3 separate regions of the Homo sapiens genome follow, and regions 2 and 3 are each linked to region 1. The links come from fine-mapping of genetic effects on gene expression. A gene starts in region 1. Each other region holds a variant in brackets. All regions are shown on one strand. Distances are between the middles of the regions.

Region 1 (10,854 bases):
TTCTCCTTCCTCAGCCTCCCAAGTAGCTGGGACTACAGGCATGCACCACCAGTTTTTGTATTTTTGTAATTTTTGTATTTTTAGTAGAGACAGGGTTTCACCATGTTGGCCAGGCTGGTCATGAACTCCTGACCTCAGGTGATCCACCTGCCTCTGTCTCCCAAAGCGCTGGAATTACAGGCGTGACCCACCGTGCCTGGCCTCATTTTTTTTTTTTCAATCATTTCACTCAGCAGCTTCACTAGGCCCAAGCCTGACATAAGAGTTTTCATATCCCATAATGCAAAAAACCCCAAGAACTCTGTGAAGGAACAATATTGGCCCAGAGTCGACCCAAACAGGGAGATCTGGGCTGCATCTTCCCTCCCCTCCCCGCCCCAGAAAGTCTAAATTTAGTTTACTGGATACCCTGCAATGACATTAACATGTCATTGCAACATTAACATGTTGCAAAAACAAGAATCAAGCAAAAGAGAAAGAGGAAGCTTAATGTGGCATGAGGTATTTTAATACCATGGCAACTGTGGTGTCTTCTCTATTATTTAATTCACTTCCTTAGGTCAGGTTATTCTGCCCTCTCTCTCTTGCACTTCCTGTTGCTGTAATCAAATCAGGTCACCCTGAATCTGTAAGTCTTCTTCCTGACTGCACTCATGTCTATTTCCAGCAGAATGAATTTTCTCCATTTCTTTCTTTGCTCCCTGGACCTTTATTTGGTGCCCTTGATGTCCCTGCTCTTCCCAGTGCTCCACAAGCTGCAAACGCTTCCCTTTCATCCCCATCTCCTCCCCCACCCGTCTCCTCCTCGCTGCTCCTCTCCCAGCCCCTCCCTCCAGCTTCTGCAGTTGTCACTAACACAGTTAGCCACTTGATTAGTGACTCAGTGATTCAGAACCCAGGAACCTTGGTTCTCCTAAAACTTCCATGCTTCCCTCCCTAGAGTCAAGATAAAGGTTCTCCCCTCACCTGCCTGCCCAGATAGAGCCATTAACGTGAGAGGACTTGAGTATTCAGTTTGTTGGAGTTGCCCTGGCTTCTTCCCATTTCCTTTTTATGTGCCTTTTCCTGGGGCTTCTCAGGCTCTATTTACCTTTTCTCCAGAAAAGGTGGACAGAGAAGGTTTGAGCTTCGAATTTATGTAGCCCAACTCTTCATTTACAGATGGGAAAACGAAGGCCCCCCCCCCGGCCCCCGCAGAACTGAATTGCCCAGTTGCTTGGCTAGTTCTTGGTGGAACCAAAACAGACAAAGCAAAAACTCAATCAAACTGGCTAATTTGGTGGGAAAAAATCTTGTGAAGGAGTGAGCAGTGCCAAAACGAGACTTGATGATTATTTAAAAGGTCTTTCACTAATTTTATCCTTGTCATCCTGCTGGCGGTGTAAGCAAGTGATGGAAACCAGAGCCAGGCCAGCAACCATAAAGCCACCAGGGCTTCTGGAGAGGCTCTGATGCGACTTCCTACCGCTGAGGTCTCAGAGGCTCCTCCCTCCCAAATACATGGAGACCCAGAAGACTGCTTGGGCCCCTCCACTCCCTGCCAGCGGGCAGGATGAGGAGTCAGTAACAGCCAACAGTAGTGAATCCCACATAAGTTCCACATTCACTACTTGTTTCACAATTCGCTTAGCATGCATAGCAGCGAATTGACAGAATTGTTTCCCCTAAATGTAGGAAGGTGCATAAAATACAAGAAGCTTGTAAAAATATATTTATTGCAAAAGTTATATCAGTCTTGTATGTAAGCACCAGCCTTCTCCAGGGAAAGACAGGGGTGGTAGAATGAATAAAATTAACTCAGTATTTTGACTGCTTGCTGCAATGGAAGAGGGAATTATGTTTCCCAAGCTGGGTATGAAGAGAAGGAATATAGCCTTGGAGGCAATGGAAACTAAGCCAGAGCAGCTTAGAAAAGTCACCCCTCCTCCTGATTCAAGACCAAAGACAGGGAAAAAAAAGTCACTCTCAGTGTGAACATGAAAGCAAGTCTCACCCAGCCTAGATGTTGGATGTCCTGTGCGGTCCCGTTCCTCCCTGGTAGAGCTTGTTCTGTCTCACTGGGATCTGCCAAGTTAGGAGCTGAGCCACACTACTTCTGCTGCTGCTGTTGCTGCTGCACATTGTTTGTGATTAAGAGTTTTATTGATTTTCTAGCCCATGACCACATTGGTGGGGACAGAGTACGACAGGGGAAACTGGTGGAAAGCCAAGTAGAAAGAGAGTTTATGAAATCAGCTCTCAATGAAGAAAACTGTGGGAAAGAATGCGATGGAAGCAGATTTGGGGCCAGTCGATGTGGGAAAGTAGAACAACTCAAAAATGCTCTTCAGATTTGAACTGAAACAAAGCACTTTGCCAAAACATAGGAGGAGAATCCAGTCTGTGAGAAAGCCTCAGCACTGTTTATATAAAACAGAATATTCCTATCTGCAAAATCATTGCTGACAATGCTTAACCCACATTCTGTACCAGGCACTGTGTTGTGTTCTAGGACCATAAATAAGAATCAGTCCGTCTAGAGAAGGAGACTCGAAACATACACAACATGATTTGTAAAGATACAAGTGGATCTTAAGAGAGTCATAAAAACATTTTGCCCCAGCTTTGGGCCCAGAGCCAGCAGGAATGAATGGTGGGGGAAGAGGGATGGGACTGTGTCCCTGCTGCTGCCTGCCTCATGTGCAGATCTGGTGAAGGTTCTCTGTAGTTTGACCCCGCATCACTACTGACTTTGCTAGAAAGACCCTGCTCCCTTCCTGTCCCTGCCTCTTGTAGGTCCAGAGGACCCCTGCTTCACCGACGGCGGGGGCCGGGGTTGGGGGGTGCCGTAGGCAGGGTTTCAGGTGTTCTCAAGGTAGTAGGTAGAAAGGGAGCGCTTGACAGTTTGGGTGCTTAGTACAGGCTGGGAAAACCTCACAGCACCAAGGGGACAGTTGGACACTTGCAACATGATTCCTCCCCTCTCCTTCACTCCCACACGTACCCACCCACCATGAAACTGTGTCTTCTGTACGTCTTGAGAGATTTCTTCCAGCCTCCCAGCCCTGCCTCACTGCCTTTGAGTAAGAGAATAAAGTCTTTTTGCTGCTTCCTTCAGCTTTCAGCATTGTTTTTCACCCTGAAAATCAACTGGAAACTGGGGAAGACGAGTATCTGGTATGTTTTAGTGCACCAGTATAATATGCAAGGGAGGGGGTGATATGTAAAAAGGTTAAATGAGAAAAAATATCATATAATTCAAAACCAGTGAGTGACCGAGCTCAGTAAATGATGGCTTTTTAAAAATCAGATATAAAATCCTGTTTCTGTGGTTCATGTTTGAAAATGATGTAACCTAAAGTGGCTCTTTCATCTTCCACTGCACGTACACCTTCTCTGTTTAGCCTTGGACTCCCAGTATCTGCACTGGAGGACTTTAAGGAGGTCAAACCTAAGCCAAGAGACTTCAGAGAGGTATAGACTAAGCTAGAGGGTGTCTTGCTTGAGCCAAAGAACCTCAGAGTGCTCTAGCCTAAGCCCCAAGGACCTTATGTCAATGTAGACTAAGCCTCTAATCTGGAGGAATTCAGGCTGGCTGGCTGGGCTCCCAAGACACCTCTGCAGGTGAGCAGCACCAGGACTCAAGTCTCCTAACTTCTGGTCCAGGACCCTCCCCTTTCTAAAACAGTCAAAGGGGCTGAAATTCCTGGAAGTGTGTGGGGCTAATGTCCCTAGCATTGTTCTCTTTTTCATAGAGGAAAAGCTGACTTTAAGAAACAAGCCGGCAATACTTGACAAAAATATCTACCATTTAAGCACAGAGCCAAAAGCAAGGAGTAGTCTCCTGGGCGCTGGAAGTATTTTGAAATCCCCAAAGTCTCATTCATTGATCAGAAAACAAAATGGAATTACTTTTTTTTTGCTCCCTCCTCCCCTCCATGCAGTAGCTGTTCTTGGCGGGTGCCCAGAGCGGCACCCGGTAATTCCACGGTACATTGTGTACATTTACATCTGTTTAATCGGCTATTTACAGTCGCCCTTTACCGCCACCTGTAAGAGGCAGCGCCATAACGACACTAAGTGGCCGGGCCGGAAGCCGGGTGCCCAATGGTTTTCTCCACTTGAGGACGCCTGAATCTGTGAAGTGGTTGGCACTTGGAGAAACAGAGAGACAGCTGGGGACATCACACGTACAGGGCGGGAGGCGCGGGAAAGAGGCGCGCCAGACGGAGGGTCCTTCCTTCCTCGTTAGCTCCACTCGGCGGCTCCTTTTCCATTACCACAGCAGCAAGGAGGAACCTGCCGAGCCTTCGGTGCGGCTTGTTTCCTGCCTGACAGAGAGCCCGCTGCCATTTGGATTTGATGAATTTCTGAATCACCCGAGGGCCTGGCGACCCGAAGGAGGGCGGGGAGTGGGGGCGCTGGGGTGGACCCGCCATCCTGCGGAATCCGGGCCAGATAACAGCCCCCGAGCTGGGGAAATCGGCTTGCGGATGTGATGCGGGACCGCGAGGACACCTGCGCTCCCTTGCGTGTCGCACTCGTGCAGCTCCCGGTGGCGACGGGGTGATGTGGGGGCGAGGGTGAGAGGAAGTCCAGGCGCCAGAGCGTCAGAAACGCTTCCTTAGCTTCCCTGGCACTTTGGAGGTTGTCTCGAGGGAACACGGACAGTGCACGACGGACTTTCAAGTTGCTCCCGGCACAACGGGAGGTCGGGAGCTCGGAGCCCCTACGGGCGGTCCAAGTGTCCGCGAGAAGCCCGCAGCGCCCAGGACCGCGTTGAGCGCTCGGGGCGCGCCAAGCCGCACCTAAGCAAAAGAGAAACGCTGACGGGCCGGAGGCGGGTTGGCTGGGACGCGGAATACGCGCGGCCCCGGAGCGCCTTTCGTTTTAAGGAGCCTTACTTCTGGAAAGGGACAGGGAACTGTCAATCAGCGAGGGAGGGAGCGCACCGGCGCTGGGTGATGTCAGCGGATCAGCTGCTCGATAACAAAGAGAGGGTATTACAGGAGAAAGTTGCAGCAGCGGCAGCGGCCAAGGCGGCACACCGGAGCCTCCGAGGCGAGGGGCAAGTGGGCGAAGGGAGGGGGGACGACGGCTGCTGCCGCAGCAGCTGAAGGCCAAGGAATTGAAAGGGCTGTAGGGGGAGGCAGTGCGAGCCAGCCCCGACTGCTCCTCCTCTTCCTCCTCCTCCTCCAAACTCGCGAGCCCCAGAGCTCGCTCAGCCGCCGGGAGCACCCAGAGGGACGGGAGGCAGCCGCGCAGCCCCGAGCTGGGCAGTGTCCCCAGCCGCCATGGATAGCGACGACGAGATGGTGGAGGAGGCGGTGGAAGGTACAAGCATTTCTCCGGGGCCGGGGGAGGAGGCGCAGAGGGCCTGGAGCGCGGAAGGAGTGGCGGGCTGCGAACAGCGCGGCGCCGGGCCCCGCGGCCGCCACTGTCCCCTACACGGGTGGCCGGTTGCCCGGCTCGGGCGGGGGCCCGACAGCCACGGTCACGCCGCCGGGAGCGCGCACTGCGCGGCGGGGCGCAGGCCGAGAATGGGGCTCCGCCAGGCCGGGGGCGCTGGAAACGCACGGCCGCTCCATCCCGCCCGGCCACAGCCTGCATCCACCCTCGGAGTTGCGAAACCTGCCCCGCGCTCTGGCCTTTCCGCCTTTGGGCGCGGAGGGTGGGTGCACTCCGCAGGGCAGCCCCTTGAGGCCGGCGGACTCCGCGGAGCAATCCCCTAGCCCAGTTTTGGCCACCCCGATCCCCTCCCGGCCGCCAGCCCTTCCCTTCTGCTGCCTCTGCGCCCCGCGGCGGCCGCGGCCCCGTCCGGGTAGGTCCCCCGGCGCAGCGCACGGGGCCAGACCAGGCACGTGGCAGCCGCGGCCCAGGCGGCAGCTCTTCCGAAAAGATGAAATCATTGTCGGGCGACGGACAAGTCTCCCGACCCGGGACTCGAACGTGCGCCGTCCGGGAGGCGGGCAGCCCTCCCCTCAGCTGCCCCCGAGCGAACTCAGTCAGGCCTCCCCCTCCCCCTTCCTGCTTGGCTGGGATGCAGCCGCCACGCTGTGCAGGCGCGCCGCGAGTCCGCACCGAGATTGCTGGGTGACACTTAACTTTCTGAATTCCATGCCGTTGGCTGTGGGTGATATCACCGCCTCAGTGTCGTGTTTCTCCGCCCCTTCTCTTCTACCGCCCCTCCCCCGACTTTTCTCGCCACTTTGTTTTGCTGAGTTTCTCCACCTTTTTTTTTTTTTTTTTGTTAGTTCTGAAAAAACGATGTGGGGACGTTATACAATCTCGTTGTTTGTATCATAGGATGTTATGATTTTGTAACAGCGAATACTGGAAAATACTCTTTAGCGTATTTATTTGGTTCCACTCCATACAGTACGTCGTGATGTTTTTCAGTGTGGTGTGGTATGATACCAGAATGTTTTAAACTAAGCATGTGAGTAAATAATTTTTAGCTGTTGGTTGAATCTGGTTTCTGTCTGATTTGTATAAACACAAGTTCTGACGAAGGATAAAGAAAAAAAGTGGCGACACTACAAATGCATAAGGATACATGGTTATTGTTACACTAGGGAAAAATCAGTTTTAATGTTTTCATAAACATAACTCCCTTTGCAGTGCTTCTGAGATCTTAAGGGGAGATTAAGCAGACTAATATTTCTGAACTCTTGAAAAGTATCCAATGTAATGCCAATATTAAAACTTATTTCTTCATCTAACTTCGAAGCCAATTAAAGACTGTGGTTTTTGTTAAGAAAATTTTCACCATGTTGTGAACTCACAGAGCTATTTATCTCTCTAATAAATAAAGCCAATGTTGGGGCTTACTGGAGTGAGGCCCAGATACATTGATTGAGTTGATCCACAGGGAGCCTTCTGAGAAGTTAAAAGTTGTTGACTTCTTGTGCCTCCATGTTGTGAAAGATAAAGGAAAAATGATCTCAGATTGTTAGGGCTTGCTCTCTTTCTTCAACGTTTACTTTTACTTGTAAAAATTAAATACAAACCCTTAATTGCTGGTACTGTTCTCCATGTTAAACCACATCCATTCCCCTTTGAAGCTGTTTACAAACATATGTCCAGTTGTCCATAGTCCTCAGGCTCCTTTGCAGACTGTGACCAAGAGCTTTAGAAATGGCAGTATTGTTTTTTGAGAACATCCACTGGATTCGAAAACAGGGAAGTTCATATAAACAGGGATGGTTTTGTTTTATAGGGTAATTATGTACATTATTGTCCAAAATCAGAACCCCCTTGAGAATGAGAGGGCACACTATTAATAATGATGCTGGGGCAGGTAGCTTAAGCCTTGAATGTCTGGGGCAATCTGGGACACATGGTCACTCAGTTGTAGCTAACTAAACAATTAGAGCAGCACAGAATCTTTAAAAGCCCCTAGAAGCATCTCAGGCTCTAACTTGCACAGTGCCAGGAGTGTGTGTGTGCACATGCAGTAAACCGTACCTGTGCGTGCACTCTTGTCCAGCCATTCTTGGCCTTTTTAGTGCTGTTTGCAATAGTCTTTACATAACATCTAACACTTACATAGGGGACTGGTATAAACTGCTTCTGTTCTTTCCCAAAGAGAAGCTAGTCTGAATATCTTAGTGTTTAAGTACCAACTAATCTACCTCTTTCCATAAACAGAGCCTCTGTTCTCAGTAGTTTCATTGTCATAGCTATTATTATCATTGCTATAATTGTTTAGTTCTTATTAAGTGCAGGCTCTGTGCTAAGTGTTTCACAGACATTATCCATTCAGTCTTATTCAGTCTTATGAGGTGGGTACTAATATTATCCTAATTTTACAGAGGCGGGAACTGAGGCATACAGAAGTTAAGGACTAATCCAAGAACACTCAGTGAGGTGGAGAGACTGGCTTGGACTTCCAAAACAGCCCTCCACCAGACCAAACTGTCTTCCTACATTTTTTATTTTTAATGAGTTAGTCAAATTTATGAAACACTTGATAACTGAGTTTGGAAGCAACAGTTAAATATTATGTCAGTGCCATTTTTTATCAGTGTAACTCTGTAGAGGTTGGTTCTGACAGAGTTCAGTGACTTTCAGAAAAATGTATTTGGGGAGAAAGAACCTGTGTCCTCTGCAATAGCTATCTTTTTTCTTCTTCATTAGAGATTTACTCTGGGGAAGAAATTAGTCTCTTCAGGATTGAGTTTAAATGTCTTATATATCATGTGCATTTGGTTCTCTGTCAGGGTATGATTGTAACTCTGGGAAAGTTCTGAACTCAGAGTGGACAATTCCCTGAGGTGAGGGGAGTGGCGGAGGCTGTGTCGAGAGAGTGTTCTGTGTACTGTGTTGGCTGTGCTCTTGTGGGAAGAAGGCAGCAAGCCCTGGGCCTCAGAGGACCTCAGAGCTCCACCTGAGCTCTGGTGTGGCTTTTGGAAAACACTTTGAGACACACTGGTTCAGTGAAGAGTGATGTTTAGTTTTCCAGTGTTATTCCCCTGGGCATCTGGAAACAGAAATTTATCACAGCATCTATTTCTTTGTCTACCCATAGATACAAAGATGAATATGATGTGGTCTCTAATATGATTTCAAATAAATATATCTATACAGATGAATTGTGATGGTTGAGAGGAAGTAAAAATTAGTTCCAGCTTAGGGAAGTCAAAGGGGAAAGATTTTCCAGAAGAGGTGCCATAGAGCTGAGTCAGGTTGAGAGGGGAACTTTGTGAGTGAAGACACGGAGGCATGGAATTCTGCGGGTGCACCCAGAGAACAGTCATTTGATTTTGCTGCAACATGGAGCTTACAAGGAGAAAAGTGGAGGGGAAGACAGGGAAAGGAGGCTGGGTAGCAGGCTGAGAGCATGGACTGTGTGCTGGAAGCCATGGAAGCCGTGGGGGCTCTTTAGAAAAGGGAATGACAGGATCAAGGCTCCACTCCGGGAAGAGGAACAGGCAGTGGCCAGCAGGACAGTCAGAGGGGCTGACACAGCAGATGAGGTACCTTGAAGTCTCTTTGCAGTGGTCCAGATGCACAGTTATGATGGCAGGAAAAACAGAAGGGCCTGGAAATGTGTAGGAGACATGGAGGAAGAATGATCAAAAAGGGGAAATATCAGAACAAGGGGCCAGAATGAAAATAAGCAGCTCAGTGTTCCACTGCCACAACCCCTTCAAAATATTAAGAATATTTTTTATTAACACTCCCCCTAATATCAGATTCTACTTGTCTCTGCTAAGAGTGCTCATGCCCTGTATCTAGGGAAAATGCATATGAAGTGTATTTGTAGCACCCTTTCTGTGTGGGCCACACATTAAAATCATGACCCTCACAATTAATAGATGAACCCTTGCCAACAATTACCCTTAAAAAAAATTATCCAGGTAACAAACTTTCATATGTACCCCCGGATCTAAAATAAAAGTTGAAATAATTTTTTAAAAACCTAAAAAATTAAAAAATTTTAAAAAGATCAAAACATCAAGTTATGTTTTTAAGAGTTGGTGATTGAATGCATCACCAGGAGGGCATGTTCTTTGCATTAAACAGAATAAGCTTGCCTTTTATTATTGTTGTTTTTTGTTTTTCAATTTATTTATTTATTTAATGAGATGGGGTCTCACTGTATTGCCCAGACTGGTCTCCTGGGCTCAAGAGATCCACCTTGGCTTCCCAAAGTGCTGGGATTACAGGCATGAGCCACCGCGCCCGGCCTATTAATTGTTGTTTTTTAAAGCAATGTTCTAGTGTACAAAACCAACAGTGTGTGCGTAGGGTCTCTGGTTCTAAGGGAAATACTCACACGCCACTCTCAGATCTCTTGTGAGTAAGCCTGAGACATTAAGCAGCTGGGTGTCTGATCCAGAGGGAATTTACTTTGCTGAGATTGAGATGTACATTGCTGCTTAGAATATAGGCCTGGCTCTTATCAGATTCAGGAAGAAGCTCCCTCAGAAGTAACTAGAGGGGAAAATTGTAACTTTCTATCTGTTCAATAGATAATGACCATAGAATAAAGTGAAAAAGTAGACTTGTGAACTGATACTTTTTTCCTTTCTCTAACTTCTGTAAATATTTAAAATCATGCTACAGACAGATACACAGAACATTAGCTCCGGCAACCTTAAAAACACAGAGCAGTCATTCAAGTTAATTTTCCCTGTTGCTTGGGCCTGGTATTCACCCTCTGTTCAGTGGGAACTCGCCTGGAAGGCTGTTGGCTGACTTGGCGCATTTTACAAATTGACCTCATGCAGAGCAAGGAGGACTAGTGTTTCCCTTCAAGTTAGATAACACTTGGAAGAGATAGGACTTTGCAACCGGGACATGCTGTTGGAAACCTGGTGGTTCTGTGTGAATGATCTTAACCACAAAGCCTTCTTCCACTTCCCTGCCAGGGACCTGGGGGTTCCTACCTTTTTAGAGGTACCTTCTTACCATCACCAAGGAAGAGTGTGTTCAACTAGTTTGCCAGTGTCTAGAATGGGAATTAAAGGATTTGGAGAAGGGGCTTTCAGTATTCATCAGCACACTCAGTGTGGCAATGTCTCTTGGGCAAGTCTCATAAAGCATTGGTGTCTTCATCTGTAAGATGAGAATATGGGAGACTGTTTTGAGGCTTACATTTGATAACAGGAAAGCATATAACCCAATGCCGATCATAGTAGATTCATACACTTTTTTTCTCCTCTGTTTATCAGTACCCCTGTGCATTAAATTGACTTACTGACATGACAAAATATTACATGATCTTATTGTCCAAATATTAATGATCTTATTGGCATTTGAAAAAGTTATGTCAGATTCTGTTCTAGCACTAATGTTGAAAGAAGATGTAAGAGCACTGCAACCTAGTCTCTTCTCTTTCTCATGGAAAGTCTCTGTTATTGTTTTGGT
Region 2 (10,854 bases), 33 kb after region 1:
TCTTTGTCTTAATTCTGGGGCCTAATCTGAAGGGACAATGGCAATGTGGGGCAACATTTTCCCACAGTGGATCACAGAAGTGTCAGAGCATAAGCAGATACCTGTGATGCCTTTTGAAACCTCACCTTGGAACTGACATGGTGGCACTTTACTCACTTTTCACTGGTCAAAGCAAGTCACATGGCCAAGCCAGACATCAGTGAGACAGGGAAATTACACCATACACATTAGTGGGAGATACTGAAAAGTCATGTGACAAAGGGCCTAGGTATATAATTCTCATATAGGGAGGGAATAAAGAAATGACAGCAGTAATTCAACTGATTTCAAATGGTTATCTCTCCAAAAAACTGTACTATGATAATAAAGAACCAAATCAAGTAGATCTCTAAACTGTAAAGTTGATTGAGCCTGAGCTGTGACTGGAAAATATAAATGCATATTGGCATCTCGAGCCCAACATCTTGCGTGGAGCACAATGTATGAGTGAACCCAATGGAATCCATATTTGAAAAAAGTATTATTTTCCTTTTAGAAGTACACATGTCACACTAAACATTTTTTCTGAGTATAAAATTACTAAGTGTAGAAAATCTGGAAAATATACAAAGAAAAATCAAGATTTTGCATTTTGAGTGGCACAGCTTAAGAAAGCTATTTGAATTGGTCTGATTCCCTGAAAACAATATATGCATGTATTTCTGAGCCAGGTTTGGTTATAGGGAGAAAAAAACAGAAAAGACAATAAATCTGGGCATTAATAGGCTTAAATAGTATTTAGTTATTTGGGATCTGAAGAAGAATCTCCAAAGGAAGCTTGTCCAAAAGTGGAAATTTTAGCATTTATATTTAGGTCCAATTTGGGTTGCTTTAAATGTCTTTTTTGTTTTTTTAAGTTAAAAATGGAGACAGTCTAAATGCAATGTGGGATTCTGGATTGGATCCTGGAAGAGAAAAAGGACATTAGTGGAAAAACTGGTGAAATCTAAATAAAGTCTAGAGTTTTGTACATAGTAATGTATCTGTGTTGGTTTCTTAATTTTGACAAATGTACCATGCACTGTAAGAAGTTAACATTAGGAGAAACAGTGAGGATGCTCTGTGCTTTCTTTGCGACTTTTCTGTATACAGTCATGGGCCCATAACAACTGTGGTACCATAAGATTATGCCATATTTTTGTTTTTATTTCATTTTATTTTTTAAGGGACAGGATTTCACTCTGTTGCCCAGACTGGAGTGGACTGGTGTTATCATAGCCCACTGCAGCCTTGAGCTCCTGAGCTCAAGCAATCCTCCTGCCTCAGCCTCCCCAGTAGCTAAGACTACAGGCATGCACCACAATGCCCAGCTAAATATTTTTAAATTTTTTTGTAGAAACAGGGTCTTGCTGTATTGCTCAGGCTGGTCTCAAACTCCTGGCCTCAAGCAATCTTCCTGCCTCGGACTCTCATAGTGCTGGGATTACAGACATAAACTACTGCACCCAGCTAAGATTATATCATATTTTTACTGCATCTTTTCTGTGTATAGATATGTTTAGATACACAAATCCTTCCCATTAGGTTACTGTTGTCTATGGTATTCCCTATAGTAACAAGCTGTACAGGTTTGGAGCCTAGGGGCAATAGGCTGTACCATTTATTAATAGCCTAGGTGTGTAGTTGGCTATACCATCTAGGTTTGTGTGAGTACACTCTCTGATGTTTGCATAATGACCAACTCACCTCATGACACATTTCTCAAAATGTATCCCCTTCATTAAGTGATGCATGTCGTATATTTGAAATTACTCCAAAATGAAAAGTTTATTTTTTTAAAAAAAGGAAGCAGTAATCTTTGAACTACAAACTGTGATATCTATGCCCTTGATCTATGTTCTGAAAGGAGACAGTGTTATAATATTTAGAAATGAGGAGGCTCGAAACAAGGGAGGATCCCAATTGGTGATGCCAGTTTTAAAACTTCAGAAGTAGCAGCATTTTTAGTGGCAGGTGCCTAAACTTAAGAATCACCTAATTTGAGACCTAGCTCTAACATTTACTATATTATCCTTGGGCAAGTTATTTATTTTTTCAGAACCTGTTTCCTCATTACCAAATGTGGATATTAGCACCTACCATAAAACACTGTAATGAAAGTTGTTATTACATTCTTCTTGCTATAAATAAGAAACAGTAGGCCAGGGCTGGTGGCTCACAGCTGTAATCCTAGCACTTTGGGAGGCTAAGCCAGGTGGATCACTTGAGCCCAGAAGTTCAAGATCAGCCTAGGCAGCATGGTAAGATCCTGTCTCTCCTAAAAAATACAAAAAAAAAAAAAAAAAATTAGCTGGGCATAGTGGCATGTGTCTGTAATCTCAGCTACTTGGGAGACTGAGGTGGGAGGATCACGTGAGCTCAGGAAGTCAGGGCTGCAGTGAGCTGAGTGCACTGCACTCCAGTCTGGGCGACAGGAGTGAGACCCTGTCTTTAAAAAAAAAAAAAAAATTGTTGAGAGTGAGAATTCTAAAGGGAATTATTATTTTTTTAGAATTTCTGGTTGCTTTAGCTGGGTGTGGTAGAGTGTGCCTACAGTCCCAGCTACTCAGGAGGCTGAGGCACAAGAACCGCTTGAACCTGGGAAGTGGAGGTTGCAGTGAGCCAAGATAGCACCACTGCATTCCAGCCTGGGTGACACAGAGACTCTGTCTCAAAACAAACAAACAAACAAACAAAAACAAACAACAACAACAAAAACCTTCTGGTTGCAAATAAACATTCACTTCAAATTAACTTAACGCAGAAAAGAAAGGGGGGATTTATTGGCAAGATTCCTGCAGACCTCAGGTGTTTTGAAATGTTGAATAGTTTGAGCCTCAAAAGGGCCAGGAACCATGGCTGCTCTGGCACTCTGAAGATCCTATAGACCGATCTTTAGTCTAATGTTCTGCCATGTTTGTATCTCTCCTCTGCCCCTTCCAGTTATAATTATTGACCTGCTGACTGGCCAGTGGGTTAGGGGGTACAGGGTCCTGTGACTGTAGCGTCCAATGGTTGGGGAAGGAGAGAAATTAATGCAAATATCTCACATAAAACACTCCTTGACCTGTCGCCTCACCAGCTTCTCCATTTCTCTGTGTGCTTTTGTAACCACAAACTACTTCTAATTCTCTACTTACTTCCTGTGGAGTTTCTCACCTATGCCACTGCTTCTCACCTGATCAGCCCTACTCCACATAGTAACTGCTTTCCTTGGCTAATTCCTACTCCATCTTTAAGGCTTAACTCACTTTTTATAATGAATGTTTGTCCATTGAATAAATGAATTCTAGTCAAAGGGCATAGCATACTATAGAGGAAAGGAGGGAAAGTAAAGGATGTGTAAAATCTGTAAAAGTAAAGGATGTGCCTGCAGCCTGGGCATGTCTAAGGCAGCAGAAGAAGAGACAGTAGGCATTGGAAGAGATAGTGTGCACTCCCTGAAAGCAGCAACAGAAGTTAATCCTTATTGTATCTACACAGTCCCTAGTGTTGTACATGTAGCTGGCACTCAGTAAATTTGTCATAAAAATTTTAGTCTAAGGAGCTAGATGGAATTCATAGGAAAATTTCCACTCAATAGAACATACATTCCACACACAATTTTGGTTATTTATAAAAAGTGACGGCTGGGCACAGCAGCTCACGCCTGTAATACCCGCACTTTGGGAGGCTGAGCCAGGTGGATCACTAGAGGTCAGGAGTTCAAGACCAGCCTGGCCAACAGGGCGAAACCCCATCTCTACTGAAAATACAAAAATTAGCCAGGCATGGTGACAGGCACCTGTAATCCCAGCTGCTTGGGAGGCTGAGGCAGGAGAATCGCTTGAACCCGGGAGGCAGAGGTTGCAGTGAGCTGAGATCACGCCATTGCTCTCCAGCCTGAGTGACAGAGCAAGACTGTCTCAAAAGAAAAAAAAAGTGGGGGAGGGTGGTTTAAATGCTTTTCGTGGATTGCTTGGTGGTCTGTTACCACTTTGCTCTCAGATCCAATCCATTCATCATTCTTTCACTGCCCGCTATTATTGCAAGAGGCTGCTGCCCCTTGCAGCCTGCATTTTTCAGGCTCCTGTGTGTCTGACTTCTGTCTGAGTTTGGCCAAAGGGAGGCCACTGGCTGGCTGGGGACAAAGCAGGAGAAGGCAGCAGGAAGAAGCCCTCTCTGTGTCAACCAGCATCTCCAGCAGTGGCCCCATCACCTCCTGATTCCATCTCCCATGAGGAAGGCCCAGGCTAGTTCCAACTACCCCAGCTCCAGAGCTCCAGGAGCAGCACTGTGCCCTCTGTCCCTCCGGCCTCCAGTGGCAGCTTCCTGCTCTTGCCAGTGTCTGGGCTCTTCACGGCTCCATCTGGCTTGTCAGCATTCCATCCCCTGTATGACCAATTCCCTGAACTGAATTCTTTTTGAAACACTCAAATGGTCCGTTTCTGTGCGGACACTGACTGATTTGGATTGGTTTCTGACTTTTAGTTTCAGGTATTCATTGGGGTTTTGGTTGTACAAAAAAAGCCACTCACAAACAAACAGAAAGAGGACCTAGTAACCATTAGTAACTACTGAAGAATTGCTTAATGGGATTATGAGTTTTCCCTCAGTGTATATAATCATTTGTTTTGCAGGAGTAAGCCCTCTGATTCTAAATCTTGTTTCTTTACCTATCAGTCTTCAGAGCATCTATCTTTAGTGCTGTCTGTGAGGATTCTCTAAAGCTAATCCTTCACAGAGAGCCAGTGTTCCTTCTAGGGTGGTTGTGTGCCTTGATTTCTAGAGTAAATTACTAATTGGCTTCTGAACTACCGTAATAGAAAGGAGATTACTTTGTTAATGCTTTATCAAAAGCAGTGCTGTTCTCCTTAATTCTGGTGAGGCAGAATTTTATTCTTAGTGAAGGAGACAACTGCCAGTGTTCAGTTGTTGGATTCTGTAGACTGTATCTGTAATGAAGAAAACCACCAGAAAAATTTAAAACCATCATCCAATTTGATCTGAGCCAAGAGATCTCAGAATTTCATGACAAAGCATTTTATTGATTCCCAAGCATCCTTTAAGTCATTTTAATAAGGAAAATTCAAGAGTGAATTGGAATGTTAAGAGATGCATCTGATGGCTGTTCATGAAGGCCTGAAAATAAAACTGAAGCGTAAATCTAAAATGTATCCATTTAAATTGAAGAACTTCATTCTAGTTGGTATAACTTGATTAAGATTTTTGGTTTTTTAACTCTTCGTTGTCCCATGAATAGAGAGAAGTGTTATAAATGCTCTTCCCTAACTCTGCACCTATACTGGTATTTTTGTTTGCTTTTCAGATTCAGTGTACCACTTTGATAAGTCGACTTCATCTTGCATTTCTACCAATGCTCTTCTTCCAGATCCTTATGAATCAGAAAGGTAATTTCCTCCTTGGGGTTTTAATTGCACTGTTTATGTGAGGTTAAATAAGCCTAGTGGTAGGAACTTATGCACCTCTTTGGCTCTCTGCCCAGGCTGGGTTCCAGCTCAGACCAAGCTCCTCATGAAAGTGTCCTTTTCCTTTGCCAACCCTCAAATAAATATTTCTATATTCTGAGGAAGAGTGTTTTTATTCTTATGTAGAATCTGACCCTGTAAGAGAGTTTCCTCACCCATAAATCACAGAACAGCTTGTGTGTCTGTCCTAGAGTAAAACCTCCAGGTAGAAAGAGCAGTTGAGGCCAGGCATGGTGGCTCATGCCTGCAGTCCCAGCATTTTGGGAGGCCAAGGCGGGCGGATCACTTGAGGTCAGGAGTTCAAGACCAGCCTGGCCAACATGGTGAAACCCCATCTCTACTAAAAATACAAAAATTAGCTGGGTGTCATGGCGTATACCTGTAATCCCAGCTACTCGGGAGGCTGAGGCACAAGAATTGCTTCAACCTGGGAGGCAGAGGTTACAGTGAGCCGAGATCATGCCACTGCACTCCAGCCTGAGCAACAGAGCAAGACTCCATCTAAAAAGAAAAAAAAAAAAAAAAAAAAAAAAA[G/AG]AGCAGCTGGGCCAGGCAGCCAGCTGTGTCCTGGCCGAGCATTCCCGTTCTTAGGGTCTGTGCTGCAGTCACATGCTGGCCCTCTAGGGGAACATTTCATGCTCTTTAAAGCTCTAGCCTGTGCACACAGGATGCCTCCATTTCATCTTAGACCAGCGGAGGTGTTCTGGAACACAAGACAATTTCTTTTTTCACAAACAGAAGACAAGAGTGAAACAAAGAAAGTATAAGAGGCATAAAAACATTCTAGCTTATAAATGACAAGTTTCTGGTTTGTAAGCCCACTCCCAGAGGGTCACATCCTGTTCTACTTCATGTCTTATTTATGAGGATGGCTAAACTCTAGCTCTTGAGTCTTGATGTGGCTTTTTCTGGTACCCTCTCTGGGATTCTTCTTATTCCTTAGCAACAGATCTGTTTATGAATAAGCGTACTATCTGAAATTGGTTTTCTCTTTGCCTCGTGTTTTGTAAGCATGGCTTACCTCCCATTCAGTTTCTGTTCCCATCTGAGAAATAGGCCTCTTCCTCCATTCAACTGACAGGGCTGACCCCACAATGTCACAATGATGAATGGACTCTTTTTTGACATGAGGCTCTGGCCCAGTTACAAAGGGAAGGGTTTAGCTTCTTTGTTAGCTCCGAAACACAAGACCATAGCCATACGTGTTAGTCTTTTCTGTTATTATTGTTGTGATGAGGCTGCATAATGATGCCCTCAGAACTTTCAGTGGTTTACAGAATCAAACATTTTGTTTTACACCATAGTTCTATAGGTTGGCTGAGGTTCAGCCACTTCTGACTGGAATCAGCTAAGCTCAGCTGGCCTAGGCTGGACTCCAGGTTTCAAGTTGGGTTCAAGTCTGTTTCACATGTTTTCTTTACAAGAGAAACAGGGAGCAACAGCCCCCTAGGGCATATTCTTCTAATGGAGACAGTGAAAAGTCTGGAGGAGGCCAGCAGAAATTTGCCCCAGCCCTTCACACCTGAGACTTGCCTGCAGCCACTTCTGCCCATGTTCTACCAGCAAAGCAGATCAGATGGCCAAACGAGAAGTCAGTAGGGCAGGATGTATCCTCCACCCACCCTGAGGGAGGCACTACAAGGTCACGTGGCAAAGTGGCAGGATGTATATAATTCTATCACAGCGAAGAAATAAAGAGTTGAAAGCAATAAATCAGTCTTCCAGTTCATGAATAAGCATAAGAGCCATGTAACTAAAATTACAGATGATCAGTTCCTGTAGGGTCATTCCATCCCAGCGTCTGGTTAAATCCAGTTCCGTAATTATGAGCGCTTTTTTCTTTTTTTTTTTTAAGACAGAGTCTTGCTCTTGTCGTCCAGACTGGAGTGCAATGGTGCAATTTCAGCTCACTGCAATCTCCACCGCCTGGGTTCAAGTGATTCTCCTGCCTCAGCCTCCCGAGTAACTGGGATTACAGGCACCCGCCACCACACCCAGCTATTTTTTGTATTTTTAGTAGAGACGGGGTTTCACCATGTTGGCCAGGGTGCTCTTGAACTCCTGACCTCAGGTAATCCACCCGCCTCAGCCTCCCAAAGTGCTGGCATTACAGGCATCAGCTACCACGCCCGACCAGCTGTTTTCTTATAAACCAGTGGTTGGCAAACTTTTTCTGTAAAGGGCCACATAGTAAATATTTTAGGCTTTGCAAGCCATATAATATCTGTTGCAACTACTCAATTCTGCCTTTGTAGAGCTAAAGCAGTCATAGGCAATACTAAGCAAATGGGTATGGCTGTGTCCCAATAAAACTTTACTTACAAAAATGAGCAGCAGCCAGACTGGACCCTCAGGCCATAGTTAACTGACCCCTGTTATGAACCCTTTTGCTGGGAAATGCTTATTGGATATATCTTATTAATTGTTTGTCACTGTTGCATATAGAAGATACATCTTGAGGCTTAACTAAAACAGCCTCCTTTCCCTCCCATCTAACACTGACAAACTTAGATATAGCTTTAATTAACTTTGAAAAAATGTTTACTTGTCCAGTAAGGCAGTGAAAATTGTCATCAACTAAAAACATAAAATTCTTCCAAAAAATACCTCATATCAAGCACTGAGCATCTTTATGAAAATATAATGATAATTTCTATATTAGAAAGCAAATTTTAAACACCACTCCTAAAAGAGACATAACTACCGTTTGTTTAATTTCCAATGCCAAAATATTGTGGTTTAACTTTTTCTTCCTCCCTCCCTTCTTAGTTGGGTTATGAATTGACATTTTGGAATCAGTAGCCTTAATGATATTTTGGCAGTTGATGTAAGGAATGACATATTAAGCTGAAAAGGTCACTATTCAACTCTTTTTTCAATTTAGGGTTTATGTTGCTGAATCTCTTATTTCCAGTGCTGGAGAAGGACTTTTTTCAAAGGTAGCTGTGGGACCTAATACTGTTATGTCTTTTTATAATGGAGTTCGAATTACACACCAAGAGGTGAGTGGGGCTGACAGTGGAAAATCAACTTTGTTGGTTAAAGGGCTTTGCTTCAAACAAAATCCCTTTACCTTAGTACTCACTAGAAAGTTAAAGAAGCAGATTGGCTTTTTTGTAAAAATGATTGGACATTTTCATCCTCTTTATTTTAAGCCTTAATACGATTTTTTTTAAAAGTTCCAGAGCTATTTTATAGAGAGTGGGGTAATGCCATCAATAAGACAGTAATTGGTATATTAGACTGTACCAATGTCTTAAAAATTGAGATCCAGTCAGACTCTGTAAATAACTAACTCATGACCTTGGGTGGGGTGCTTTATAGGAAGGCCCCTTACATCTTCTTGTGCAAAAGCCATGCTATACTATATCCTACATTTTGTCAGGAAGAGTTCTTTTGTCAAAAAAATTAAAAACAAAATGTTAAAGAGTTGAATCACCTCTTACCTTTAAGATACAATCTTTGATATATGTCAAAGGCTTCATATATGTTTTCTGTTTTTGTTTCTTCACTTTACAGTTAATTTCCCTAAGTGTCTGCCTAAGGGCAAAAGTTCAATGTTTTTAGCACAGCTTATGCGCTCCTTCCTTGTCTGACTTATATTACGTGTATGGGACCTTAAGCTTATGGCTAATATTCCACATTTATGTTCACCTTTGCATTTATTCCGGTGGAACAGTAAGAGGGAAAATGCTGTGAAATAATAATAAAGTTATTACACTTTCAAAGCAGTTGCACAGGCAAAAGAGGGCGACGTATTCAAACTGCACTATGGTCTGTCAGACTACGTCCCATGCAAAGGCCAGACTTCTGTCAGCAATCCAGAGAAATTCAGCATACAAAGGGTGACTTTGGGATATTGATATATGATTTACTTACTCATTTTACAGATAGGGAAACGGAAGCCTAGAGAGATTACACAACTTGCTTAAAGTCAAAAATACAGCAAATAGCAGAGTTCAAGTAGGATTTCAAACTGCAGAATCTGGCTTTGTGCTGAACCTCAATATGCTCTATTGTATAAATGAATGTGACACCCTTCTTGCCCTAATGAAATTTAGATTCTGTTGGGGAGATAAGAAAAATACACAACTAATGGCAGCCTAAGGTAGATGGTACCAAGTGCCACATATCAGTATCACATGACTGGTTTTGAATATTAAGGTCCATGAGGCTTTTTTCCACTTTTGATCACTGCTGTATCCCCTGCACCTAGAAGAGTGCCCGGCACATGGTACCGCTTAGTAAACATCAGTTGAGGGACTATCACATATGAATAAAAGCACAATTACAATTTAATAGTGGGGGAAATGGTATACCTTGAGAGTCAACAGTTTTGTATGAAAATGTCATCCTGTTGGCTTCAAAAGGCTGGGCTGCTGTCATCACCAGCTCCTGGGGTGAGTTCATCAGGAGTGGTTTGGAGAAGAGAAGCCTGATTGTTACACTGTTAGTAACCCCTGTTGTAGATAAGAAGGCATGCTGGTAATCGATGGCTGCCTCCTGGTCACAGTGATTTCCCACCTGTAACAAAGGTGGAGGACTTGCCTAGAGTACATTCTTGCATCCCTTACATTTCTGGTTCCATTTGTGTTCTTACTTTGTTTTTTTTTCTTTTGCCTCCTCTTCTTTATCTACTTTTAATACAAGCTATCCAGTTATATTTGTGTGTGTTTTCATCAGGGACTTTAAATCCTTTTTTTTCATATAGAACAAGGAAAAATGAATAAATAGTTAAGTCGAGCTGCCTGGCACTGACCACACATGTCATTTGCACTCTCAGTGTGTGGAGACATGCCTTGTTTTGTTTTGTTTTATTTCATTTTGTAGTGCTCAAACCTTGAAGTTTTGGCTGAGTGTGGTGGCTTACACCTGTAATCCCAACACTTTGGGAGGCCAAGGTGGGCAGATCATCTGAGGTCAGGAGTTCGAGACCAGCCTGGCCAACATGGTGAAACCCCGTCTCTACAAAATATACAAAAACTAGCCAGGCATGGTGGTGCACACCTGTAATTCCAGCTGCTCAGGAGGCTGAGGCACAAGAGTCGCTTGAACCTGGGAGGCAGAGGTTGTGGTGAGCCAAGATCACGCTACTTGCGCTCCAGCCTAGGTGACAGAGTGAGACCCTGTCTCAAAAACAAAAATAATAATAAGATAAATGAGTTAATATCTCTGATGTCCTTTGACCTTTGGGGAGAAAGGTCCTCTCTAAGGCTCGCTTTCTTGTTTTCTGCAGGTTGACAGCAGGGACTGGGCCCTTAATGGGAACACCCTCTCCCTTGATGAAGAAACGGTCATTGATGTGCCTGAGCCCTATAACCACGTATCCAAGTACTGTGCCTCCTTGGGACACAAGGCAAATCACTCCTTC
Region 3 (10,854 bases), 47 kb after region 1:
TCAGTCTGTCCCTTATCTACACTCTGAAAATGATGATGATAATGAACAGGAAAATGTAAATAAAAGAGGATTATAAGAGAAGCTCTAGGCCTGGAAATTCAACACAGGGTCTGTTTTTTGGTTTTTTTTCAGTGTACCAGAGGTTAACCAACCTGTATTTCAGGAACATTTTTTTTAGTGAAATATGTTAATTTACTTTAATTTTTTTTTTCTGAGATGGGTTCTCTGTCATCCAAACTGGAGTGCAGTGGCATAATGTCAGCTCACTGCAACCTCTGCCTCCCAGTCTCGAGCGATCCTCCCACCTTAGCCTCCCAAGTAGCTGGTACCAACAGGTGCACACCACCACCCCTGGCTAATTTTTTGTATTTTTGGTAGAGGTGGGGTTTCACCATGTTGCCCAGGCTAGTCTTGAACTCCCGAGCTCAGGTGATCTATCCGCCTCAGCCTCCCAAAGTGGTGGGAATACAGGCATGGGCCACTGCACCCAGCCAAGTGAAATATTTTAATTTAAGCAAAGAGTTGTGATTTTCATAAGGAATTCCTGAATCCACAGTCCACGCATCTCTTTGTGGTGGAGTACAGGCTGATAACTGTTCACTTTTGTGTTCACACATGCATGCTCACAGGCAGGCAGTAACCAATATTAGTTGAATCCTACTTTGTGCCAGGCACTGTATAAGGTGCTTTCTATATGTGACCCCATTTTGTCATGACAAAGACCCTATGGGATAACTATTACTAGTATTATCATGATTTTACAGATGAGGAAAGTGAGATTCAGAGATATAAGGTGAACTTTCCAAGAGGATGCAGTAAAAATGTGTTGAATCAGGACTCACACCAAAGTCTTCTGACACCAAGTGTCCTTTCCACAAAACATGATATGATACCCAAGAGGGTGGACATAGAGGCCCCTTTGGTGTGAGGTAAAGGTTGTTCCTTTTTACTCCACATAAAAGAAGTCCCAAAGCTATAGACATGCCCATTCCTCCACCACTGATAGAAGGAACCAGCCAAGTACTTACTATCATGCCCCAAGCACCAATCTTTTTTTTCTTTTTTTTTTTTTTTGAGACAAAGTCTCACTCTGTCATCCAGGCTGGAGTGCAGTGGAGCAATCTCAGCTCACTGCAATCTCCACCTCTTGGGTCCAAGCGATTCTCGTGCTTCAGCCTCCCAAGTAGCTGGGATTACAGGTGTGCGCCACCACACCCAGCTAATTTTTGCATTTTTAGTAGAGATGGGGTTTCACCACATTGGCCAGGCTGGTCTCCAACTCCTGACCTCAAGTGATCCACCCCCCTCAGCCTCCCAAAGTGCTGGGATTACAGAGGTGAGCCACCATGTCCAGCCGCCAAGCACCAATCTAACTTAGGGCCTGGAACCTTCTCCTTTGCTGTCTCACCAACCCTTTGTGCAAAATATGACTATAAACTGGGCACAGTGGCTCACACCTGTAATCCCAGCACTTTAGAAGGCCAAGGTGGGCCAATCACTTGAGGCCAGGAGTTCAAGACCAGGCTGGCCAACATAGCAAAACCCTGTCTGTACTAAAAATACAAAAAATCTTCTGGCCATGGTAGCACACACCTGTAATCCCAGCTGCTTGGGAGGCTGAGACATGAGAATTGCTGGAACCTGGAAGGTGGAAGTTGCAGTGAGCCAAGATCATGCCACTGCACTTCAGCCTGGGCAACAGAGCAAGACTCTGTCTCAAAAAAAAAAAAAAAAAAAAAAAGAATAAGAAAAAAAAAGACTCTAAATGAATGAGATTGATTTGACCAGATGCATATAAAAATAAAGCTGATTTCTTCTGGCCATGCCTTACATGTATCCATTTCAGCAGCTGTTAGGTGAGCTAAGTCTATTTATTGCTTATTTATCTGCCTGTTCTGCAGGGAGCTGTGCAGATGAACAGGATTGGGAGCCTTCGGCAAATGAACATAGCCATAGTGTTAACCTCGTTTCTGGTCCCAAGAGGACTTGTTGTAGGAAGGAGATACTGCTCTCTTCATAGGATGCTTCACAGGGAAATACTAAATAAACAGGTTGGCAGAGAGGTCTAGACTTCCCTCTTGGGAAGAAATCTTCATCTACTTTCATGCTAGAAAATAATATTTCCTCTCTATGTATAGGGTGGAATACAGAGTTTTTGCCTTTGAAAATCCACAGGGCTCTTTCTTACAACTCCAAAAGCACTCTGGTGAAGCCTTCTCCCTGAGATACAGCCACGTAATCTGATGCTGCTGGCCAGACAAGCTCAAATGCTGGCGGGCTGCACTGGATCTGATTTCTCATTAACGACAGATTTTTGTTGTTGATCATGATTGTTGGTTTATAAATGCAAGGTGCCAAATATGCTTTAAAAAACAGAGCAGTGCTTTTCAAACTTTAATACACCAGTGGATCGCCTGGGGGTGTCGCTAAAATGCAGATTGCAATCCAGCAGGTCTGGGATGGGGCCGAGATGCTCCATGTCTAATAAGCTCTCGGGTGAAACTGATGCTGGGTGACCACACTTTGGGCACATACCAGGTGTGCCCAGGGAAGAGTGCCTGGGGGTGATTCCTGTATCAGCCCCTCCCTAGCCTTTGCTTCCAACCTCCTGGTCTGGCCCGGGAATGACTGTGTGCATCTTGATGTTTAGGTTTGTCCACCCCCGTTTTGGGCCCATCAAATGCATCCGCACCCTGAGAGCAGTGGAGGCCGATGAAGAGCTCACCGTTGCCTATGGCTATGACCACAGCCCCCCCGGGAAGAGTGGGCCTGAAGCCCCTGAGTGGTACCAGGTGGAGCTGAAGGCCTTCCAGGCCACCCAGCAAAAGTGAAAGGCCTGGCTTTGGGGTTCAGAGACCTGGAATAGAAACTTGGATCTATGCACTACGTTTATCTGACAATGGGACAACCAGGGACTGCTCATGCTGTGACGTCACATCCTCTCACCATGCGTTAGCAACGACTTTCTCGCATACTAACTAGGTTTGACTGTATTACTCATACCAGATTTAAAATTAGCTAGCCTTGCAACAACGTCCTACTGAGAGGTATTGTCGAGCATTTGACATAAGACAGCGTGATGTTCTTTGGTGGTTCAAGTCTAAATCTGTACCACATTCGGAGATGCCAAATGATTAGACTGAAACAGGGAAACGGGGTTTTTCAGTCATTTTTAGTCAGTGGTTTTTCCATAGTGCTTTTTTCCTATGGCCAGTGCAAATTGTGTTAGCACACTTGCATATGTGCCGTATTAAGGGTTGACAATTACTACATCTTTATTCTCTAAATGTAGTATAATTTGCCTTTTAACCTTTGATCTGTATCTTGCAATAGAATGGCTTTGGTTTTTTTCTTAGTAAATAGGAGCCCACTTCTAAAGTCATTTCACCCCTCAGCCCTATTCTCTTTCTTAGATACCCTTTACAAGAGAAAACTTCCAAATGGATTTTTGCATCAATAGCAGTGTGTAGGTCTCTCTGGTTCTTTCTATATCATCATTTTATTATTATGTCCTAATATAAAGTACTGGCTCATAGGGCCAGGGTATTATTATAGAATATTATTCTCGCATGTAAACAAAGATATCTTTGCTTTAAGATGTGAGAAGAAATGAATTTACTTTGTTTGCATTAAGTTATGGAAGAGTTGTAATATATACTTTAAGAAAGAAGAGAAGAAAACTAGTATCTCTAAGCGGTAACTATGGCAATTTTGCAATATTTTCAGTAGTGCTAGTAATTTTTTCCTCCTTGAGTACACATTAAATGTACATAACATAGCGCGGTCAGGCTTGTGGCACAGTGCATTGAATTCAAAAGTCAAACAGCAAATTTGAATTCTAACAGAATTCAAAAAAAAATTTTTTTAGTCAGTACTACTAAGGCAGACACACTGATTACTAGGTACAAATCAAACCTTGATGCTAAAACTCTTCATCATTGTAATTTCAAAGCACTTACCTGCTTCAAAACATTGTAAACTAAGACTGAACACCTGTATAGTTTAAAAGCAACACTATCAATAGCATTTCAGCCATTTTGCCAGCCATGTGTAATCACAACTGCAGAAATAAGGAGAAAACCCCTGTTTTTTTAGTTTAGCTAATTAGATCTGTAACATCACTGGGATTGCTCTGAATGAATCCTGAGAGTTTTGTTTTTTATAAGCACCCTCACCACATGCCATAGCTTTGTCTCTTTTAGACACCTCGATGCAGCGGCTGGAAGGACTGGAGAGCAGCTGTTGTGCTGATCTGTAGCTGTCAGCTGTGATTCCTGTCACCTGAGTCAGTTTGGTCTGGAAAGCGAAGGCCTTCCAAGCTGTAGCAGATAGTGAGCTCCAGCTGATGAGAGAAGGCTTCAGTGGAAGAAGAGTGAGGACATAGGCAGAAGGAAGTTTGCTATTTCTTGTCAGTTGCACATTGCTTTATGAAGACTACAACAAAAGTGCTTAATCCCAGGCTGCTCATGACTTTCATTTCAGGTGGCCCTTGGGCACATTGACAGAGTTGCCCTTCCCTTCTTTGCAACACCAGGCTTCCTAGAGCACCCGGTTGCATGCTTTGCAGCTAGGTGGCAGTGGTTTCAGGGAGATCCAGTTGGATCCCTGCTTGAAAGCTTAAGCCAATGGTTCACCCATGAGAGGAAGTTGTCAGTGCTTCCAGGAAGATTGCCCACCAAAGGAACTGAATAGTTTTTAGATTTAAAGGCACCAGGATAGGGTCACTCTTACTCTGTAGAAAGAGACCGTTCTATACACTGTGACGGATGGGCCAGGGCCTCTGGACTTGCATTCTGATAGGTGCTTTAATTTAAATGTGCCCAAAGGGAGTGACTGTCTTCAGGAGAAAGATGGCTTGCATTAACCTCGATCAAGTGGGTTGTGCAGCCAGGTCAGGGAATACGGTCAGGGAGAGGATAGTGCTGGTCATGCCCCCGATGCAGCTATGCTCTGAATGATTTCATTCCTGAGAGTGATAGCATTCTGGTCCTGGCTGCAGTGGGGTACAATTTACGTCCTAAG[T/G]GGGGGCTACTCTAATTATCCCATTCAAATGGAATTTTTTTCAACATTGGATAGAAGGAATTGAAGAGTTGTAAGTAGTGATTAGTCTGCTAATCAGTTCTTCAGATGAGATATTGAATGGTAACACTCTGAGCTTAAAACTCAGCAGTGTGTCTGTGACCTCCACGCAAATCAGAGGAAGCAATGCATCCACGCTGAGCCTCACCATGTCTTCCTCCCAACTCTCTTCATACTCTCTGTGTCTTCCAGCTCTTCTTTCTCTGGCCGGCTCTCTTTCCTCTTCTCTCTGCATATGTGAGAACGCCTGGGCATCCTGGGTAACAGCAGCCCCAGCTGCCCTCTCCTGTTCCCTGTTCCAAGTCCCCTGCACTGACCTTTCTTGAGTCTCTCTGGCTCTGTGCATGTCTTTGGGACTCTGCTCATCTGGCTTTTCCTCTGTGTGTGCCTCTCTGTTTGCTTATGTCTCTGGCTCTGTCTTCCCCACCCCTCCCCTCACACACACACATACTCCCAAATGTAAGGCTCTGTGGCAGGTTGGAATCGGAGTAAGGCTTGAGATTCACTGAGTTCTGTAGGTAGGGAAAGAAGTCAAGGGAGTGGAGGTTCTATAAGGAATTAACAGCTGAGGACGGAAGGGTTTGTTTCCCGTTTGAACCTAAACGCAAGTGGAAAAGAATACTCAGAATGTATTTTTCTACTTTACATCTGCTGGGGAAGGAAATGTGTCAGGAAGCCGCTGCATCTGGTCATTTCATCGCATCAGAATCACAGCAGACGTGGAAGATTCCATGTGGTGGGGAATAAAGAAATAACTTTATGCTCTCCTGAAAAACAGCGGGAGCCTATGTGTGTGTGCGACACTGTAATCTCAAGGAGATTCACTCAGAGCTGTCTCAGTCCAACTCCTGCATGACCAGATCTTCCCTTAGCATCTTTTCTGTGATGAAATATTATCTTGTGTTAGAGTTAGGAATAGGAACTAACCTGTAGGAGCATGTCCCCAAATGGACATTTGAATGGACTAACAAAAACAACTGGAAAGACTGAATTTCCGACACAAAGGAATGATGGGATCAAAAAGAAAGCAGTGAGGAGTTCTTGAGTCTTGTAGTACCTATTCTTATTTTAACTTGCTTCATCCTTGATCTACCTGAGACACTAAGAAGGAAATTAGTTTTCCAAGAGCTCTTTGAACCTGTCTAGGACTGTAGTTAAACCTATTTGCCCTATGGGGGTTCTTCACACTCGAAAAACTATTTCCTTATCACCAACGACCCACCCAGAAAGGCCAATGAGGCCAAATGTAACAATTTTTAACATTTAAATATAACTATTAAAATTGCATTAATTGTGAACAGTGAATTAAAGGGTTGTCTTCTCCAGGAGACAGTATGTGGCACTTTTCGTAAATTTCATTTAATATATAAAAATTTAAATCACTCACTGCAACATGCATTTAAAATCTTCCAAGAAGGTAGAGGTATCATTTTCTGTTTTGCTTTGTTTTAAAACAGTTGCCTCAAGCTTCTGTCTTAAGAGTAGTGACTTAGAATCCAGATATCTTTTGTTTTAGAAAAACAAGCAAAACTATGTTGCAAGACTGACAGTTGTAATGTTTATTTGCCACAGATCAAAGGTTCACAAAGTATATCAAATTTACATCTACTTGGGGTACCTTGATAGATTATTATTGTTTTTCTTTTATCTTTCCCTTCAGGAATTTGGAAACTCGTTGTCACTTTTTTTAATTTTAAAAATACTAAATTGTAATAGTTTTCTTTTGCCAAATGTGTGCGTACATATTCAAAGCAATGAAACTATTTCAAGCCATACAACCACAGGGGTGGGAACCCTTTTCACAAATTTTAATGTGTTTGTATGTAAATAGATGTTTGTATGAAATATTTTCATGATAGAATGAATATATTTAAATGAAGTTGAATTATTCCAGTGCTACTTAAACACATTACAAAAATTTTGGTGAGAATTATCTGAGTCTATTGAGATGTAATGCAGATCAATTTTGATTTTTAAAAATCAAAAGCCTACAATAACTCTGACTCTCAGCAACTTCCTCGGCGTTGTTGCACCTGACGTGGAGAGAGCTCGTAGGCTTCCCCAGTGCCTCAGCCGCTTCCTGGTGGAAGTTAGGTGCTAATGGAGGTGTGTTCACCTTTTAGTGATATCACTGCAGGCCTTTGAGGGGCCTGAGAGTGAATCAGAGGCATTAGAGACACCGGTGCAGTTATCTGGAGCACAATTTCTTTGCAGGGCAGCAGAATCAGAAGCCAGACTTGGCCATGTGAACCTCGAAACTCGGTTTCCCGGCCGCCATCAACCGCCACCCTTACTGCCTAGTCACACACGTCAGGGAGGCTGCCCTCAGTGGAGTTGGGGTTGAGACCCCAGGGTGGGACTTCACAGTTTTGCCAGCAATCTCTACCTTCTGACTTCTGCCTCGCAGAGAGGAAGGAGAGGGGAGCATCTGGCAAGGGGCCCATTTCTCAGCACAGTACATTTCCTGTCTCAGCTCTGGAAGACTATGCACCCAAGCACCAAACTTCCAACCAGAGAGAGAGACGTCCTCCGATAACAAAAATCCTTGCTTCCTCTGTCTGTGACTTTACACACAGTTGTTCAAAGTTGTTAAATGTCAAGAGTCAATCACATCCCTAGGACATACCTCCCAACTCTCCTGACTCTTATGTTATTGAAAAAACAAACAAACAAAAACTCCTTTATGATGATATTCAACTTGAGTGGGGTTTTTTTTCCACTTTGGTCCTGGATATAATGAAATGATACATATTAGGATAAATTTTCACTGTGTATAGTAGCAATACGAACACACATGCCAATGTATCAACATATCTACTTGGTTACATTTTGGTTTATGATAATTAACCTTGATTCATGTATTGGGAAGCTACAGGGACTACGTAATACCTGCTTATCACATAGGAAAATTATGTCCATGATTCTGAGCTCCCTTCTTCAAAAGTTTCCTCCTGGGTGTTCTATGTTCTCTCTTTATCCTGAAATACATTTATTAGGTTGTGAGGTATGTTGAAGAAGTAGAAGCCAGGGGTATGCTTTCAGCATTTATTGCAACCAAAAGTTAACCCCATCACGGTTAACGAGCATCTTTGGTCTCTTGTGGAATTTGAACTAAAACTATGAGCCTTATTCAATATCTATAATTCTATGATTTTTTTAAATTATGGGAAATTAATGAAAGATGTTTACATGAATAATGTTTGCCCTTACTGTGTTATGAATGAGTTTTTTGTAGTGTGTCTGGGTGCATGATGCAAGAGAGTAGGAAAAATGTTTCTGAAACAAAACTTGACAAATATTTGTAATGAAAGTAAATTTAAAGATTGCTATAATTGCGCTATAGAAACAATGCAAGTATTAAACAAAATATACAATCATCTGTCATTGTCTTCCTTTGGTCATCTAGGTTAGAAAAGCAATAATGGTTTTCTTATAATGTGTCTACCTGTATATTTAAATTACTAAGTGAACTTTACATTTTAAGTTGTTTTAAAATATTATTAGCCATTTATCATTTTCAGAGCATTCTAGTAAGAGCGGAGGATTTGATATGATTCCACATACACCCATAAATCCAGAAGGATTAGCCACACCAACAGAAAGTGTCGGATTGAATACATACATGGTAAGGGTATGGAATGCAAATGAGATGATCAGGGCAAATAGCTGAAAGGAAACTTCAATTCATGATTTAAAGAAAATATAGAAATTTTGTTAGACGTTGTGGTAGATTTTGGCAGTCTGAGGATGAGTCTGAGCTGAGAACCCTGGCAATCCCTTATTCCTGCCCTAATCACAGTCAACATTTCCGTTTTTTTTTTAATCTGAGATGAAGTCTCACTCTGTCACCCAGGCTGGAGTGCAGTGGTGCAATCTTGGCTCACTGCAGCCTCCACCTCCGGGATTCAAGCGACTCTCCTGCCTCAGCCTCCCAAGTAGCTGGGATTACAGGCGCTTACCACCACACTCAGCTCATTTTTGTATTTTTAGTAAAGACGGGGTTTCACCATGTTGGCGAGGCTGGTCTTGAACTCCTGACCTCAAGTGATCTGCCTGCCTTGGCCTCCCAAAGTGCTGGGATTACAGGCATGAGTCACCGTGCCCAGCCAGTCAACATTTGTAAAGCACAAAAGCCAGTGACAAAAGGAGTCAACATAGTACCTCATTATTAGCTGGGCCTTCTGCCCAGGACCCCAAAGAAGTGAATTCTAGGAAGTTTGGCAGGGCTACACGAGGCACAGTTAGGCCTCAAACTGAAGCAGGCCATGAGATCTCCTGCTTTATTTTACCTCCCTCAGTTGCCCAATCCTTGATTTTATCACACTTCCTTCCATGGAAGGAAGGAAACAGAAACGAGTGAGATGACTGGGTCCAAACTGATGTTGGATCAGCTTTTCCACCTGCACAGACACATTCACATGCTAGATCTTTCAGGCAAGGCTTCACCCTCTAACACGCATGGGTCAAATCACAATATTAATATTCTTCTTCCTTGTGGGAAAGGGGAATACAGGATTAAAAATTTAATACAGACTGAGGGAAGCTTAAGAAGCTAACCTTGAAAGTGAAAGATTGGGCAACTTTCATGGGTTAAGATGATTGATTTGGGCCCAAATGTTGTAGAATGAGGTAATGTGAAAATTAAGACAAAATTATGTTAGACCAAATTAGTAACCATCCCAGCTATACTAATGGGATGGTTACCAATATCTGCCTTTGGGTTTAAATGTTTGGAATCATTCAGACTGCTAGTTTATATTAAATGTGAAATTGTTTCAGCAGTCATCTCTAGAACTAGGTAACAGCTATCGAAGGACTTTATGCTGTAGTTTCATTTAGTTTCAATTCAGCATCTGACTGATTTGGGATTGTTCAATAAGAAGCCTCTAGTTGAAAAATAAGAGGAAGAAGAAGAAATTCCATTCCTCCTCTTGAAGCTGAAAAAAAAAGGAAAAACAGAAAAGGGGTTTCTGCTCCAAAAGTATTTCAGAAAATGACTGTTACCTTGCAGATAGATAGATAGATAGACAGATAGACAGATAGATCATGGTAATTCCCTCACGACATAGTGGTTTGCTCGATAAATGTGTTTTTCCTTAAGTTTTGTTTATTTACAAAAACCAAAAGCCAGGGTTTTGAATTTAGAGCTTCACTTCTTATAATGTACACGGAAAAAGATTAATGGATCCATCTAGATTGCTACCAAATTTTTACTTCTGTAAGTATCAGAATGCTTCCAGCTTCAAGAAACATCAAAGCTCAACTCAATATGGCCTAAGTAATAAAGAAGGTTTACTATCTCACATAACAAGAAGTGCTGAGTGGCCCTACAGTTAATTCAGCAGCTCCACCAAGTTCTTCCCATCTTTCCACTCTGCCTTTCTCAGCTTGTCTGCTTTGCCTTCAGGGGCTAGCTCCCTCACAGCCACAACATTGCTGCCCAGGTTCCAGCCATCACAGCCAATTTGGCCCCATCCAATAGATGAAAAGGAAAGTCTCTTCTATGGCCTCTATCACTGAGGAAACTCAGCCAATCACTGGCAATGGCTACAGGGGCACTATGATTATCTGAGTGAAGCATATGGCTGTGTGGCCTGAACCAGTTTGGGGCTCTCCCAGCAAGTAGGAAAGGGAAATGATAGTTGGGTTGACCACTCACAGTGTCTGCCTCATCTGCATCATGAGTTTTGTTTTCTTATTTTCCTCAGAGAAGAAGGGAGGTTAGTCTCTTCAAATAAATTAAATAAATGGATTTTTAAAAATAATTCAAATCAG

Direction of the effects. Alleles are on the strand shown, and positions count from the first base shown. SD is a standard deviation of normalised expression in the study named. Not every link is listed here.
In carriers of allele G in region 3, the expression in skeletal muscle of the gene that starts at base 5,192 in region 1 tends to be lower than with T alone (moderate effect, 0.54 SD a copy in GTEx).

The links. PIP is the estimated chance that this variant, and not a neighbour inherited with it, causes the effect.
Region 2: its variant is fine-mapped to the expression of SETD7 in whole blood (INTERVAL, PIP above 0.99).
Region 3: its variant is fine-mapped to the expression of SETD7 in skeletal muscle (GTEx, PIP 0.99).

The regions. Positions count from the first base shown.
Region 1 is chr4:139,550,557-139,561,410 of GRCh38, reverse strand. SETD7 (SET domain containing 7, histone lysine methyltransferase) reads left to right here and starts at 5,192. Exons shown (of 8, transcript NM_030648.4): 1 at 5,192-5,313. The coding sequence starts at 5,274. RefSeq lists enhancers at 4,035-4,204, 9,814-10,314 and silencers at 4,945-5,054, 5,275-5,334, 5,395-5,564, 5,695-5,884.
Region 2 is chr4:139,517,908-139,528,761 of GRCh38, reverse strand. SETD7 (SET domain containing 7, histone lysine methyltransferase) reads left to right here. Exons shown (of 8, transcript NM_030648.4): 5 at 5,327-5,408; 6 at 8,368-8,485; 7 at 10,720-10,854. Among named protein-coding and RNA genes, the nearest start is that of SETD7, 33 kb to the left of the region's middle. RefSeq lists an enhancer at 200-259. The variant G/AG (reference allele first, on the strand shown) is at 6,021.
Region 3 is chr4:139,503,640-139,514,493 of GRCh38, reverse strand. SETD7 (SET domain containing 7, histone lysine methyltransferase) reads left to right here. Exons shown (of 8, transcript NM_030648.4): 8 at 2,651-8,456. The coding sequence ends at 2,831. Among named protein-coding and RNA genes, the nearest start is that of SETD7, 47 kb to the left of the region's middle. RefSeq lists a silencer at 10,614-10,663. The variant T/G (reference allele first, on the strand shown) is at 5,023.